3 linked regions of the Homo sapiens genome follow. The protein of the gene in region 3 purifies or fractionates together with the protein of the main gene of each other region. This does not show direct contact. Each region holds a gene or a part of one and is shown on either strand. Other genes may lie near its edges. The genes, in order: ANAPC7, KIF5C and TANK.

Region 1 (3,656 bases), on a different chromosome or scaffold from region 3:
GTACCACCATGCCCGGTTAATTTTTGTATTTTTAACAGAGCGGGGGTTTCACCATGTTGGCCAGGCTGGTCTCAAACTCCTGGCCTCAAGTGATCCACCCGCCTCGGCCTCCCAAAGTGCTGTGATTACAGGTGTGAGCACGCCTAGCCTTATATGTCTCTTTAGAAGTGGCTCAGATCAAGTGATGTTGCGCAGGCTTTGGGTCTTAGACTGAAAGACTCATAGAAACTTTTTGCCCATTTTAAATTGCAGTTATCAGATGTTCTGAGCTCATTAACTACTGTACACTTACAGTTTTTACATTTTAGGATACGACTTTCTACTGACATCAAATTTATATTTTGCAGCACCTTGGACTAATTTTTGAATTTGGGATTAGCTGTGACACCCACCCCTCACCTCCGATTAATTGTATACTCAGAGCCATCGCAACTTAAGGCACAAGGGAGAGGGTGTGGGAAGAAACTCCCAGCCCCAGAGCTCAGGGTGTGATACTCAGGCTGACCAGTGACAGACTGCTGGAACCAGACCCCAATCTCACAGCTGCAGCAAAAGAGCCAGGCAGACGCAGCTGAAATCTGGCCAAAGACTCTCAGGCTCCAGGGAAATTAACCTACCCAATATGCAAACAGATGAACCAGCTCAGGGTTCCTGAGCTTTCCAACCCTCCTGGCTCCCAACACCAGGGGAAGAAAGTCTATTTCTGGCAAATAATTCTGGGGCTGAATCAATGCATTGCGAATAAGACAAAAATACTAAGAGTCTATTTTGAAAAGGGCTTCCATTCTGATCACCCCAACACCATGACTGTACAAACCAGTTTTATTAGGGAACTGCCCCAGGTGCACCTCTGGTTCATGCTCTTGTCACACCTGTTTCTCAGATCAGCCCAGGCTCAGAGGCAAGTTACTAGCTAAGCAAAGAGGAAAACTGTTCTGCAAAATAGCAACTGTCAGCTTAAGGCATTACTAACATTGCAGAAGGAAGCAAGATTTACTAGGGACATCTGGATAGCCCAGGACAATGACTTCTGGGAACAGGAAGCTCCCTAGGGCCAGATCGTGCTGCCATCCAACTTGGGAGATGACATTATCGTGCTGGGATGGTGGGTAACTCCTTCAAACCAATCCATGTCACAGAACACTGTCTATTCCTTGAGCTTTTGGATTTAGAAATTAGTTATATAAAAAGTACTCTTGGCCCAGAAGCCCCAACATGTGCGTGGGTCTCGGGGCACTCCCTCAGTCCTCCCTGGCTGGAGCAGGGGAGGATGGAGATACATGGAAGGTTGGTCAGGCTCTGTTTTAGAAATGAAGTCACGACTAGGAATTGGGAGCGAGGGGGCAGAGACCCCTGCTGCAATCACATGCTGAATCATTGTCCTTCTGAGAGCAGGCTCCTACGGTTCCTTCAGTCCACGGAAGTGCTCAGAGCAGGGCAGGCCACTGCGGCCATGGAGCTGCCGCCCCCTCACTGCATGCCGAACCACTGCTCCTGGTCAGCCCACTGGGCCGCCTCACTGTCGCTGCCCTCCAGGTCCCCTTCTTCCCCACTCCCTTCCATGTCGTCCACATCCTCCTCCTGAGTGGCATCCGTGGGACTCTCCTCCTTCTCCATCTTCTGCATCCCCTCTAGAGACTTCTGGTCATTGGGGTCCAAACTAGGGGACAACAAAACAAAGGAGAGGCCTGAATCTCTGCCTTGCTCTTGCTGGCTGATTCGTCATCTCCCTGGCCCGGCAGTGAAATGACCACACAGTCCCAAAAAATGTGCTAAAGCCTGGCCTCTCCAAACAACTCAGGCTTCCAAGGCTGGGTTGAGGGAGTCCACCACCAGAAGTGCAAAAAGGAGTCTCTTCCTAATTTTTAGAGTTCTCAATTTGAGTTTTTCTCCACAAATTTCTTAAACTTTTTCATACCTATTACCCCTAGCATTCTGCTAGAGGCGGCTACCAGATAACACAAATGAAAAAGTGGCAAACAAACATTACCAGGTAAATTCAAATGGAATTCCCAGAAAGTTGGGTTTTAGAGCTACAGGGTTACAAAAAATAGGAATTTCTCTGAGTATAGGTGTCCCATGTTCTTATGATGTAATTAAACATAGCAGCATTTCAGGAGCCAACCAAAAACATCACGCTGTACCATGGAACAGACTTGTAAACACCTAGGTCAGACCCCAGGACCCAAGGCTACCCCTACCCAAGCATTCACATTTAGCAGCTGAGTGTCAGTACATACGCCACCCCCACCCCCAAAGTTCAGAGCCTCTAGAACATTCATTTATTTGCCTCCTAAGCAATCTTTCCTCTTGCCTTAGTGACCATCACCCAAGCCAGCAGGCGTCCCACGCCTAGCAAACCCCACCTCTAATGGAAGTCTGATATTTTATTTTCTCACTTGCTTCTGAGATTCTAAAAAGCAGCTAAAACCCATGTTGGCACCGTTTCTACCGATATAAATGCGGACCGATCTGTAACATCTCCTCGTCTCCTGGTTGAAGCCTTCCACATCCTGTACTCTGAAGCTCTCACCCATACCCAGGGCTCCTGCCCTCTGGACTCCCACCTTCCCTTCTACAGACTACTATGAAAGCCCTTAGCACATGGCATGGCCAGTCTGCATGTCTGAGACTGACAGCTCCCGAAACATAGCATCTCCAGTTGTCACTGAGATGCTAGGCACACAAGTGGTGCTCAACTGTGTGCTGAACAATTGAATGTGATCAGACTCTATTAAAGACAGCCCTTCACCATAACCTTACAGACACACAGACAACCCTCAAAGAAACCACTTCTGTATTAAACAGTAAGAATACCACTATTTATTTAGCATTTACTATGTACCAGGCACAGGGCTAAGAGCTTTACATGAAATAATCATTTAACCCTCATTCGATCATTTAATATCTAATAAGGTAGCTAGATATAGACAAGGAAATGTGTTAGTAACTTGCCCAAGATCACAGGTGGTGAAGGTAGTATTCAAAACTTCAGACCTCAAGTTCTTAATGACTACAGTAGATAGAAACATGGGAAAGTACTTACAATACTTTGATTTGAAAAAGAAGAATATAAAATATATACTAGGTACAGCCCTATAAAAATATGTGTGTGTGGGCAAGGACAGAAGATGAGCTATACAAATGAACACAGATGTTATAGTGGTGTGGGATGGTTATGAGTGAAACAGTTCTCTAATGTTGTTAATATATTTTAAGAAAAAATTTTTAGAAGTCATGAATTCACAAATAACTCTTCTACCATTACTATTATTATTCTGCTTTCAACCATGGACACAAAGTGTGTGTGTGTTTCCATAACTCCTGTGACACAGCTCACTGCCTCCTCTACCCTCCTCAGTGGCCTTCCCCCAAGGGAGGCTAGTGCCTACCTTAGTGCTATACTATACTGGTCCATTGCCTCCTGATACTCATTGACAGCTACAAGGAAATCTCCTAGGATCCGATGCAGGACACAGTCACTCTGATTAGCCAGTGCGTTCCTCAGCAAAGCAATTCCATCTTCATATTTCTGTTCTCTGCCTGGGGGAATAAAAAAGACCCTCACTTAAGTCATGTACAAAAAAACCACAACTACCATTCTGACCATCTCTTTGCAGACATCCTCAAGAGAACACTGGTGCAACACAAAGCGA
Region 2 (3,656 bases), about 12 Mb from region 3:
TTTTTTTTTTTTTTTTTTAATCAAAAGAGAAGTTGGGCTTTTCTTAGTGGCTGTTGTATTTCCAGTACCAGGTAATTCCATGTATTTCTTAAGGATAAGGCTCTACCTCCCTCTTGTCATCCCTGTCCCCATCCCCTAGAGTACCATGAGCTCTGCACAAAACCTATAGTAAGATCTCAGAGCTAGGGCCTCCAGCCGGTGACAGGAAACAGAGCCTTTCAGTGTCTTCTGAAAGTTGAGCTTACTGATGTTGGGTGCAGGCTGACAGAGGCCATTCAGGCTGGTCTAGACGTTCATCCTGGAGATGCGCCCAGCACCAGCCGAACTTCTGGTGGGAAGTGGAATGAAATGGACAGGGGTGGTCTTTTGGAGAATCTTATTATCCGATGGAGACGAAGCATACCTTTGGGAACTGGGAACCTCTTTCTACAGAGAGTCTGGGTTAGGGGCCTTGTTGCACCTGCTTGCTATCCTAAGTGCAGGCAAATGAGAAATGTTTTAATTTCCCCCTAGGAATGAGAAAATGCATTATGTTACTCTGAATATCCATAGCCTCAACAGATACCGACTTATGGAAGAGAATGTTGAGACTGTCAGGACTAAATACTTAAAGCAAAATCAGGAAATCGGAGGTTGTGCTGTTCATGTGCCACTATCCACATGTGTCTTTTGAGCTCTCAAAATGTGGCTAAGTCCAAATTGAGATGGGCTGAAAGTGTAAAATATACACCAGATTGCAAACACTATTGTGTGAAAAAAAAAATCTCAGTAGTAATATTGTAATGTAAACGATCTCAACATGTAATACCAGTTACATGTTGAAATACTATTTAGGCTATATAAAATATATTACAATTAATCTTACCTATTTCTTTTCACTTTTTAATGTAGCCACTAGAGAATTTAAAATTAAATATGTGGCTTGGCCGGGCACGGTGGCTTATACCTGTAATCCCAGCACTTTGGGAGGCCGAGGTGGGTGGATCACCTGAGGTCAGGAATTTGAGACCAGCCTGGACAACATGGTGAAACACCGTCTCTACTAAAAATACAAAAATTAGCCGGGTGTGGTGGCAAACCCTTGTAATCCCAGCTACTTGGGAGGCTAAGGCAGAAGAATCACTTGAACCCGAGAGGCAGAGGTTGCAGTGAGTCGATATCGCGCCACTGCACCCCAGCCTGGGTGACAAGAGTGAAACTCCATCTCAAAAACAAACAAACAAAAAATATGTGGCTTGTGTTATATTTGTATCTGACAGCTCTGGTCTAAACATCTAGAATTAAACAAAACTTTTTTGAGGAGTAAATTTCTACTGTGTTTTCTAATTCCTATGTTCTCTCTTTGGTTCTCTTTCAACAGATATGACTCCACGTAGCATGTCAAGGACTACATTAATCACCAATTCCTTTATTTTTCCCCCCCTACAGTTTCCATTTTTTTTTTATACTTGCTTACTCCAGCCATCTGCAGTACACCAGTTTCAGGTCTTTTGAGCTGTGTAGAGTTTCTGTGTGTACAGATGTGTGCTCGGACTTTTCTCTTTTTGAGAAATCTGAAGGAGATGGTTGCAGAAGATCCACTTACTACTGAGAACCATTACCACCGACTCGGCCTCCGGGGTGTTGGGTGGTTTCTGGGTGGTTCCTGGAGCCTCCTCTGGGCAGTGCACTGTCCCATCTGTACGCCCTAATGTGCCATTCCCTAGAGGGGAACAACCAAGTGCCGTGGAGGCAGATGATCATGGTCTGCCTCAACTGTCTGGTTTCCTGTAAAATAAACACATTGTTTTATATTTTTAGGGAACAAAAAGTGCTGCTATAGGGTTCAAAGTTTTCCTTCTGAACACTTTTCCGAAACAAATTACCCCAAAGACACATTTTGAATATCCTGGTCACATCTTTGGATCTGTAAAATATACCTTTTAGTATGGCACCTGTTAAAATGCAAAGCAAATTTCTTTGGGGCAGAAAAACAATCTGACAGTAGCAGTGTAGAATTTGTTCATTCAAATACATCTGTGTAAATGCAAAAAGTCATAAAATTCACCTCCGAGCTGCTTGCTTTTGAACCTGCAGCAACTAGTCTTAGCCGGCCCGGTTTGAACATCGTTCTTTCAGAAGTGCTGAAAATGCTGCAAAGTTGGATAAGTGGAAATGTGGCTGCCCCTCTCCTCACTACTTCCTCTCTGATCGTTCTGAAGCTTGCATTGGGAATGGCTGCTTTCTCTAACCATTTTCAGCTTGAGTGGGTATTGCTGAAGAAATCCAACATCATTCCAGCAGTTGAAAAAGGAAGCCTTCGGGAGAAAGTGCTTGTCAAAATTTTGTTCTTTGTGCTTGTGTATGAGTAAGTTGCCATGAATAAGTTATTATTTTAACCCATAATTGGCGACTGTTTATATGAATTCTTTCTTTGGCACCAAATAGGTTTCATCTTCTTAGGCACAATTAGAAAAAATCCACATAGATGGATATTTTACATTTAGTTATTGCTTTATCCAAATACATGAATCTAAAGCTGAATCAACCCTTACTTCCAGTTGTGCTTATTAAGAAGATCAATTTCCAAGTAGTAAAGTTTTCAGGGAAACTGACTGTGCTGCTATTTGTTTTGACAAATTTGGGGGTAAGTCAATGACAACCAAACCAATCTCGGTGGAAACTCCTATCCTATCATGTTGTGTGCCCAAGATGAGTGAGCTGGCACTGTGCCCTGAAGCTTTCACCACTGTAATGAAATATATGCCAGGGGAGACTTTGGGCTTTTCTCATGACTGTGTGGGTCGAAGGTAGCTCAAGTGTGTGTGTGTGTGTGTGTGTGTGTGTGTGTGTGTGTGTGTGTGTATGTGTGTAAAGTGCTAAGAACTGTGCATTGACATCCAAACATTTCTTGTACAAAATTTCCCTAGCAAAGCAAACCTGCTTTGACTTAATTTATTTGTTAAATGTTGCACTTTGTTTATGTATGTTTTGTTTTTGGTGGGGAATAAGGAGAGAGAGGACGACAAATTCTATTGAAGTATTTATTTTGTGAAGATGGCAATTTTGCATTTGTTTAAATTTTTTTCATTCTTTAATTTTGTTATCAGTGCCAGCCCAATATACCTGCTCTACCATTATTTGCGGTCTGATAAAAGGGTCCTTGTGGGGCAGGTTTTGCAAAGCTTATCAGGTAATAACATATGCCACATAACCTTGTTGATATGTTTGCTTCTGATTTGGGAAGCTAAACATTGGTGTTTGAGAGGATTGCCAATTATTAATTGTCATTACCACTACTCTCCATTACTTTTTGTTTGGAAATTGAACAAAGGTCAGTAATGGTTTTTGGCTCTTGTTAATATCCATCATAAAATAGATTGTTTTAGATTCTTTCCAGGGTGATTTTTCCCTGGGTACCCCGTTTCTACTTCTAAAGAATTGCTTGGCACTTTCATGTTTCAAAGGGAAACATTCGCTTGTAGTTCCATTTTACTTGATCTCTACAAGGGACTGACAACATTTGCTTTACTTTTATTCACAGAGAAAGTTGGCTTTGATGTCTCTTAAAGATAATTCTGCTAGTTGCTGATCAGCCAGTCAGTTCACCTAGCTTCAATCTTTATAGGACTTCTAATCTAATTTTCCTATAGTGTGACTAAAAGGGAGGCAAATTA
Region 3 (3,459 bases):
ACAAGTTAAGGTTCTTCACTGTGGCACAGAGGCCTGCTCAAATTCCCCCATCCCACACCCTCTAGTTTAAAGCACTTGCTTCAAGAAGGCTTAAATTTCTGAGAGTTGCAAATCAATGCTTACTTCATAAAATGGAAGCCATGCCTTAAACACTTTTAAGAATCAGGGGAAAACAGAAACCTATAAGGCGAGAATCATAGGGAATAAAAATGAAAGGGAAGTCTCATTTTAAACAAATTTTGCAGCCGTCTGAATTTGGTATCCACTCTCTCAAATGTCTTCAGTGGCCATCAATCAGGCTGCTAACAATGAATAACAAATTTCTCAACAAGAATATGAACATTTCTAATCTAAGTTAACAAATATAGATAGTCCTTGCAGGGTTTTAGATTTTCTCCCGTTAAAAACAAATGTTTCTTTAGAAAGTTTAGTTTGAAGAATAATTCTAAAATTCAAAGTGATTCACTAATTGTAATAAATGCCACCAAATCTGGTCATCACCATTCTATTAGGTTACTGAAATGAAAACATGAATTTTATAAACTTCCCTAAAAATGTGATTCCTTCCTTCCCTTTTTTTTTTTTTTTTTTTACTCAGGAACAAAGGACATACAAATGATCACAACATAAGTACCTCTTAATATTTAATTAATTTCATCATGTAGCTATACACACAGTAAAAATTAAAGCCATGTATATTATTTAAAAATCTAAAGTGTTTAAATAATTCTACCAGTTGTTTTATCACTGGACAAGAAATGTATTAGGTTTGATATTTACAAAGATGTTTATGTTGTCTGCTATTTTCTATTATAGGTTTATTCAAAGAGAATATCACCTATAGCATAAATAATTAAATTTTTCAATAAAAACAAACTAAAAAAACCCTAGAAACATTTGACATCACCAAATTCAACAGCTCTCACTAGAAATCCAAGCAATAAACTTAGATATTTGAAATAAACATAAATTATGATTATATAACTCTAAGTCACATACATAATTTTGAATTATAGTAATAGCACTGTAAACATGAATACAAAGGATTACAGTTTTATACAGAATTTTTTTTGTTTTTCTTCTTTTAGGCTTATTTCTCCTTGAAAGAACAGAATGATCTTTTAAAAAATAAGAGTTATATAGTAAATCCAGAAAAAAATTCAAATAGCTGTGAAACTAGATTTTCCTATAAATGATCTTGAATTTAGTTTACAATCAAGTATTTATAGTATTAAAAACCCAAAATCATCACATAGAACTTGATATGTCTGTTTTCAAATGTGTCTTAAGTCTCTCCATTGAAGTGTGAATTAAGATGCCGAAGGAAATCCCCCCTGGATGTAATGGATGGTGGGAAAACTGCTTGACAGAATTCACATACTCGAGGTATATGCAGTTCTGAGTCTGTGCCACTTAGTACCACCGAGTCACTGTCTTGATTAGGAAAGGGCTTCCAAATGGGCTGCAGGAAACAAACAAAAATATCTGTTACTTATGTTTAAATTCAAATAGCACTGGACTTCAAATTTGAATTTCTGAATGAGTTACGCATGGGCATATATATTGAATTCCCTAATATAAAAGCAAATTACTTTTCCGTAAAGTTAGCATGACATGACTCAATTCGTGGTTTCATAAAGGGCACAACTAAACTTTGATTAAAAGTCACTTGGGACACACACAGTCATGCATTTTATCTTTATATATTTAAAAAGATTGCAGCTTTAGCATGCAATTTTTAATACTCGATCACAACAGCAGTAGTTTTGGAACAATAGCTAATACTCTGGTCTTTTAAATTAAATTCTATCTTTTGTTTTTTACAATAAAAACCTTAAATTATAGGGGCTTTATTAATTACATAGTACACAAGACATGATGTGTGTGTGCATTGCGTCTTAATCAAAATCAATTTCACTACTGTTTATAAGCAAATACAGTGAATACATCATACATGAATCAGCATTATTTTGATTTTTAAAAAGAAAATTTTCCTTTTAAACTACTGAACAAATTTCACTGATGTTATCTTTTGTTTTTAAAAACACAAATATTTAATCATTCAACAAAATCTAACACATGCAGTGTTTTGACTTCTTACTTTGCTTCTGTTATATAATAGGTAGTTTGGCCTTACTCATTCTTGTGGCTGAATAAAGTGAAACTCGTCAATAGTTGCCTGGTTAAAGAATTATGGAAAGTCATAATCTAACAGAACCACCTCCACTATAACCAGCACATAAATACCCTTTCATAACTGCATTTATTCTTTTTTTTAAATTTCTAGAAGGACAAGAAATAGCATTTAGCTTAATAATAGCTACACAATAGATGTCTGTTAACTGGAAAATATTTTCCTGAATTGTGTAAACCAAATTATTTTTTAAAATTTCTTATGTGGACACAGGTAAATTCCTCTGACACAGCTAAATTCTGATATTTTAAGAAGAATCATCTCATAAAGTCAAATTTAAAGAGACCCCTTATCCTCCTATTACTAATATGTTTTTAAAGTCACACATCCTAGTCTAGCACCTGACAAGTGTTACTGTTATTTCCCCTAACTTCTTTCATTCTGGTTAACCAATCATTTACATAAACAGTATATTACTAATGGAAGCACTTGGATTTCACGACATCACTGTCTTCTTATGAACAGTTTACTGGACAGCTGTGTACAATTGGTGTAAATATACAACGTCTGTCTAGGCACCCAGACACATTCAAATATCAGTATGGAGGACTTATAATAATGCTGACTCAATTCCTTTCATAAGAAATGTCAATTTTATTACAAAAATAGTAATATTTAAAATAAATGTTATAAAATTTAGGGTAAAATAACTCTCTGGAAAAACTTCTTTGATAAAAGTAGTAAAAATTGTGAGCATACAAACAAAAATCTAGTTAGAGTTAACTTGATTCTAATTTTAATGTTTTCAGTTTAAACAAAAAAGTACAAATCACTGTAATGGGAAATTGATATGGCCAAAAATAAAAGATTATTAAAGATAATTCTTATTTATATAAAATAGTAAGAAATTAAATCAGAAGCAATTTAGCTTCTAAATTTGGTAAGCCAATCTTCTACTCCCAATTTACCTATTAAATCCATATTCATTTTTCTCTATTAAGAACTTTTAGTTCAGATTTGATCTCTTCATAGAATTTAGTTGGGATCCCACTCACTGACTCAGCAAAGTAAAAAAGAAAATCACATAGAACAATAATAATCTGATATACTTTAGTCTTGGTTATGATAGCTGAATATATAAAATAGATGTTTAGTAGTAATGATTGATAGAAAGTAAAATTTTGAAATATGTAGCCAAAAATTTCACTTGTCTTTGCTACTATCTACAAACAACTCAGGATTTTTTTAAAAAAAAAATTATTATTATTATTTTGAGACAGGGTCTTGCTCTGTCACCCAGGCTGGAGTGTGATGGCACCATCACA

What was found.
Region 1: the proteins of TANK (region 3) and ANAPC7 purify together in Homo sapiens (affinity purification with mass spectrometry, with the first as the bait; one large-scale study listed by BioGRID). This does not show direct contact.
Region 2: the proteins of TANK (region 3) and KIF5C purify together in Homo sapiens (affinity purification with mass spectrometry, with the first as the bait; one large-scale study listed by BioGRID). This does not show direct contact.

The regions. Positions count from the first base shown.
Region 1 is NC_000012.12:110,372,674-110,376,329, forward strand, and holds the end of ANAPC7 (anaphase-promoting complex subunit 7), read right to left. Parts: intron 3,544-3,656; coding exon 3,393-3,543; coding exon of another isoform or gene 3,389-3,392; exon of another isoform or gene 2,801-3,388; intron 1,661-2,800; coding exon 1,471-1,660; 3' UTR 227-1,470; downstream 1-226. UniProt on the Homo sapiens protein: Component of the anaphase promoting complex/cyclosome (APC/C), a cell cycle-regulated E3 ubiquitin ligase that controls progression through mitosis and the G1 phase of the cell cycle.
Region 2 is NC_000002.12:149,021,718-149,025,373, forward strand, and holds part of KIF5C (kinesin heavy chain), read left to right. Parts: intron 1-1,360; 3' UTR 1,361-3,656. UniProt on the Homo sapiens protein: Microtubule-associated force-producing protein that may play a role in organelle transport. Has ATPase activity. Involved in synaptic transmission. Mediates dendritic trafficking of mRNAs.
Region 3 is NC_000002.12:161,233,345-161,236,803, reverse strand, and holds the end of TANK (TRAF family member-associated NF-kappa-B activator), read right to left. Parts: intron 1,463-3,459; coding exon 1,286-1,462; 3' UTR 574-1,285; downstream 1-573.